Regions from separate parts of the Homo sapiens genome. Here region 2 is linked to region 1. Evidence: fine-mapped expression QTL. Tissue or cell type: whole blood. Region 1 holds a variant in brackets; the other region holds the start of a gene. All regions are shown on one strand. Distances are from middle to middle. Region 1 overlaps ZBTB24 (zinc finger and BTB domain containing 24). Region 2 holds the start of CD164 (CD164 molecule).

Evidence for each region.
Region 2: CD164 starts here. The variant in region 1 is fine-mapped to the expression of CD164 in whole blood (INTERVAL, PIP 0.97).

The regions. Positions count from the first base shown.
Region 1 is chr6:109,464,132-109,467,015 of GRCh38, forward strand. It overlaps ZBTB24 (zinc finger and BTB domain containing 24), which reads right to left. Exons shown (of 7, transcript NM_014797.3): 7 at 1-2,443. The coding sequence ends at 1,720. It also overlaps a transcript of MICAL1 not described here. Among named protein-coding and RNA genes, the nearest start is that of MICAL1, 9.8 kb to the left of the region's middle. The variant C/T (reference allele first, on the strand shown) is at 1,098.
Region 2 is chr6:109,380,868-109,383,780 of GRCh38, forward strand. CD164 (CD164 molecule) reads right to left here and starts at 1,600. Exons shown (of 6, transcript NM_006016.6): 1 at 1,337-1,600. The coding sequence starts at 1,511. RefSeq lists a silencer at 1,058-1,337 and enhancers at 1,493-2,002, 1,558-1,907, 1,988-2,217.

The DNA of each region.
Region 1 (2,884 bases):
ACTTAGGGCTTAACAGTGTTTGTAAAAAATTGTTATCTTTGCTCTAGTCAGGCCTGATTTAACATTAGTTTGGTTGATACATATAAGATATATATCATTTTGGAAGTTTTGTGAATTACATATAATAAAATATAGCTTAGCAAATATGCAACCAAAATGTTTTTATCTTCTCTCAAACCTGAAGAATTCTCTATTACTCTAACCTCCAAATAACTTATTTGATTTAGGGAGAAATCAAGGATGTCTAAAACAAAACAATTGATGGAAAGGCTCTATTAATTTTAGAGTAGATTACCCCCTACTCCCCATCAGCATTGTTAATTTAGATATACTAGTGCCCACCTTCTTTTCTCAAAAATCCCCTACCAGCTTACATGAAAGTGGTAAAAGAATTCAATAAGCTTAGCTTGAAAACCTAACCCAAACATAATTTAATCTTTTGATGATGATTTAAAAATCATACAATTACAGACACATGCTGGCTACAAAGTCTCTGAGGCTCAAAGTTTTAAGATTAGATGAAGATTAGCTGGGTGTGGTGGTACATCCCTGTAGTCCCAGCTACTAGGGAGGCTAAGGTGGGAGGGTTGCTTGAGCCCAGGAATTCGAGGTTACAGTGAGCAATGATTGTGCCACTACACTCTGGCCTGGGTGATACAGTGAGACCCTGTCTCTAAAAAAGGAAAGATTAGGAGAAGATATTCACTTTGTGGGATTTAACTAGTCTGCAATAAAAATGAATTATAAGCTTCCATCTCCAGAAAGTTATCAGACACAACACGTAGATCAACATTTTCAGGAGATCAGTTAGAATTCAGTAGAGTATATATAAGACTTAAATTACACTGAATAAAGTTTTATGTTCCAGAATAGTGAAGAAAGCTTTACCTTCATGAAAATCAAATCTCTTTTCTGACAAAAATTCAGAATTTAGGGTGAATGTCTTGATCCAATTTTGTATTTTAAACTTAATTAAAATTTTGATAGCCTTCTGTTGAAAAATATGTAAATTTATGTTTCTCAGAAAAGACGAATTCAGAATTTTAAGAAATCCTATGCTTTTGGCTATCTTGTTACATGAATTTTGAGTTAAAATA[C/T]TGAGTTTATGAGTTTGAATCTTTCTGAAGTGTTAACACAATAAGCCCACTGTACTGCATAAAGATAAAACGTTGAGGGTTACTTTGTCTTAGGGGACTGGAAATTATTAAAAGGGCAAATTCCCCATACATTGTGATCTGTCATATTTAGCCCTGACTTGTCTTGTGGTAACAACTGTGTTGCCTAAGAAAAATAAGAAAATAGAACAAACCATTCTGCCCAGTTCAACCAAAATGACTCCCTTTGTCCTAGAAAACAAAAAAACATAACTGGGGAGGTTGGCAAGACCATAACCTATGGCTGTGAACATTTAAACCTTACAGAAAAACTGAGATCAATGCCCCCAAAGAAAAACTACCCGAGTCTTTATGAGACATTGCAGATTAAAATGAAAACCATTCAATAATATTGAAATGCTCAATACAAATCAGTACCTTAGACAAGACATACACACATCTTGCTACCTGGATGGAGGGCATTATAAACATCAGTTAGCCATCACAGCTCTCACAGAAGCATCTGCAAGTCAATGGTGTGGAGAGCCTGATTTCAAGCGTTCAAAATCCAGTCAGAGCTGGCTTATAAGAAGAGCCCAATCAAGCAGTCAAACGTGTTTACAGGTCAGCTCTGCTCCTGGCCAAGTGGCGTTGGCTGGGGCACGTGGTGAGTGGGTGGTGGCGGACCAGGCTCCTGTGTCAGCTGCAGGTGCTGAGCTGGATCTGAAGTACTTGTAGCTAAATGGAGCTCCTCTGTTTGCTCTTGATGGGCATGAAGATGTTCCAGTGTTTCCTTGGACAGAGTGATCACGTGCACTGGCTCTGTTTGTGAGGGCCCCATCTGGCTTTCAATCATATTGAGGCTCTGAATGTGTTCTGTTTGCTCCTGTTGAGCTGAAAGAATTAAATTCTGCAGTTGCTCTGGCTGCTGCGTGAGCAGGGTAAGATTAGCAGCCTGGTCTGCAGTCATGTTTTGGGAACTCTCTGCAGTCACAATGCTGATTCCCTGGCTAGGACCGGGCATGAAATTGATGTTATGTACAGAATCGGTTACGAGAAGCTGAATTTCCTGCTCTCCCGAGGTAGAGAGTTGATATGGCTGTAGCTGAAGAATATTCCTGACCTCTTCTGTATTACTACTGCCAGAAATGCTGCTGGCATCTGAAGCATGCTTCTCCTTGCTATGAATTTTCAAGTGAGCCTTCAAGTTGTCTAAGCGAGCAAACTGTAAGTTACACTCAGGGCAGGAGAAAGGCTTCTTGCCAGTGTGTAGAATGCAGTGTCTCCTTTTGGCACTGGAGTCAGAGAAGGATTTGCCACAAATGCCACAGGAGTATGGCTTTTCTCCTCTGTAAGAAAATAAACATTTTATTTTTAAAATGGAAATACCTACTTACTACTTCCTGATTATTTAGGGGGAAGCAATCAAGAGTAGTGGAAAATTAACTAGACTGCAAGTCATAAGTCATGGGTTCACCTACTAATTCAAGGACTTGAAGCAAGTCTCGCTTCCATGGGCAGTTTTTAATCTGAAAATAGGGTGTGGGTGGTGCCTGAGGAAGGGTGGCAGATGGGGCACGGCTATATATGATAAAATTTTATGATTCCACAGTATGTATTTCAGATAAGAAAAGAGAGTAAATATTTATACAATAAACATATAGTTCTCTTTTGTTTTGTCTTAGTTTTCAGAGCCAATTTTTAGACTCTAATGGCCCAATAAGTATCTATGATTAATGTCAATTTAAAAAATTTAAGCATCCTCTAATTATTTGTGATGCTGTCAGAAG
Region 2 (2,913 bases), 83 kb before region 1:
ATCATCTTAAAATAGTGCGGTTAGAATTCCCAGTATTATACTGCAATTTACTTCCCTCGTTTTGAAATGTTACCATTACATCTTCCTTAAACTAAAAACAAAACATTAAGTTTACTATATACTTTATTAAACTTTTATAAAATACTAAAACTAGAGGAGAATTTGTAGAATATGAATGCCGTGATAAAAATCATTACACTTCGGCATTCTTCGGTCAAGAAGCCAATGTTAACTACGTAAACATTACTCCTTAACTAATGTTAACTAGAATAACCAATCATACGAGACTGCAGGTTTTAAACCTCTAGTGTTTCTCCCGCTTATTACCTCAAACTTATCTTCCTTCTCTCTTTTGTGTTGTCACGGTATATGGCAATTTCTGCTTTAAAATGTATGTATGCCTTAACCAGCCCTATGCGACTGCACATAACAAAAGACACGCTCCTGATCGGGTTTTAGAAAACCCACAGACCTGGGCACAAACCCCCGTTCCACGACCTACTAAACATACGCTATCTGAGCACAGGACATAGTTAAGAAAATTTTAAAAACAATTGAAAAAAGAATAAACATACAATGTCAGGAGAGTTTACTCATCTCCGTCTCTGCATCTACCTCCTAGGTTTCACTACCTACCTTCCAGTTTAGCCTTAGGATACGTACGCAAAACACCCGGTACATACATGGGTACTTTTCTTCCTTTTCGCATACTTTGAAGTGTGAAGTTTTCACTAACTACGTGCTCAAACGTCAGCTACATTCTATTCCTATCTGCAAAACCAATGTAATTAAATCTCAAGCGACCTTCTCAGACTCAAGTCTGAGACACGAACGAGCATTACCGTCTTTAAGTTTCTCTTTCCCGGACTTCCGGAGAAGGCTACCTCCGGAGAGAGGCGCCGGGAGGGTGAACAACCAGTGGCAGGGAGAGGCAGCTCGGCCCCACCGCCAACCTCAGAGGCGCGACGCCCGGCCCCATCCTCAACCCCACCGCTGCCCCCGCGGAAGGAAGCCACGTCCCCATTTCCGACCCCAAGTGAGGCTAGGAATTACGATGCACTTTTAAAAGGCACCTCGACTTGCAACACTTCGAGGGGGGCCCCAGCCCCGCAGCCACTGGGAACCGCGCGTCCGCTTCCCCCCAGCGCGCTCCCCACCCGGCCCGGCCACGAGTGGACTCCAGGCTGGCCGCCATGTTGCCGGAGTCGCCGCCGCACCCCGAGCGCGGCCCGCCCGCCCGACCGTGGCCCGAACCCGGGCCCCGCCCGCACGGCGAGGAGGCAGTGCGGCTCGGCTGGGCAGGGGAGGGCGGGAAGCCCACAGGGCCCGCGCCCACCTGGTGCCGGAGTGGTGACCAGCGGGAGGGACGTCACCGGCGCCGAGGTTACGTTGGAGATGGGCGCTAAAGTCGTCACGTTCGGGTGCTGGGTCGTGTTCTTGTCCGCGGACAGCACGCAGAGCACGCCCAGGCAGGTGGCGGCCCAAAGCAGTGAGCGGGAGAGCCGCGACATCGTGTCCTCAGCGCTGGCGTTCGGGAGAAAGCTAAGGCTCGCAACGCTCAGTCAACCCCTCAATCCCCTGCGGCGCCGCCTCCGAGACTACGCTCCCCCGCGGGAGCGCGCAGGGGTCACGTGAGAGGCCCCTGTTTTCGGCGTGCGGGGGCGAAGAGGAGGGAGGTGGGGCTCGGACGATACCAACGGGAATCCTACGGGGGGAAGCAGGGGAGTCGGGAGGAAGCCGAAGGAACCTGGCCCTCAAAGCGACTGTGCCACAGCCAAGAAAACTGGGAGCTTCTGCAAATCGTTCTTCTTGCCCTCAGATTACCAGACACGACGCAGCTGGACTTGTCTCATGCCTGCGATAGGGACGGCCCCCACCCTGACTTGCATGGAACAGTCGACATAATGTGGCCTACTGCTTCCACCTGAGCGCCCCGCCAGGCTGTAATTCCGCGGGCCCACGTGACCTCCGGGGCCGCGCCTTCCGGACGCAACTCCACTGGGGCGGAAGTTGGTTTTGTGCGGCTCTCAAGAACTAAGTTTGTGCTGTGCTGCGGGATCCCCAGGGAGCTTCCTTATATCTTCGGCAGGACCCCTTCTTTTTTTCTTGAAGATTGATTTTGCTAGAAGTTATCCTGTGATGGGACTCCCTAGGGGAATGGAGGCACCACGTGGTTAAGGAGTTTGTGCGTTGCCGCCCACATAGTGTGGGCAGCTGAGGCGCCGCCCGGATCAGAGCCGCAGGGCGTCTACTCTGTCACTTTCCCAACCTGACTTTTCCGGATTGCTATTTCAGACGGCGGTTGCAGCAGCCGACCTGTCTCAACTCCACCACTGTAGTCAGAGAATCAAAAGCGGTCTGAGTTGCGAGGTCATTGGGGAGGCCCCCACCCCCACATTACCAGTGAGGAAACTGAGACTTAAAAAAGTGACCTGACCTGGACACGGGATTGCCTGACATCAGAGCTGGATTCTTAAGTTCCTGTTAGTGTTAAGGCGCTGCTCAGACTTTTAGTAAAGGTGAGCGCCATCTACTGCCAAGTCTCACAAAATATTCGCAAAATTTGATACGGTTATCACATGGTAAAAATTAGACTTTAAAAGTTGTATTTAATGCTGTGTTTTCAGCTGTTGTACACTTATGTAATTTTAATTATGCAAAGTTATCCTAATAATATAGGAATATTAATTGCTTTCGTGAGGTCTGTCTTGATGTGCCACGATGACTTTTTTGATGTGCCAAAAAAGATGACTACATAGTGCTTTTACCTTTTTGCTCAAATAGAAAGATTTTATTTCCCCTTGGGATCTTTTCAGTGTCGTCCTTCTGTACCCTCAGGACTATGAACATTTGTTCCAATGACTACGCTAGTTGGAGTAGTGTTGCTTGGATGTAAACAAAAAGCTGATAGTT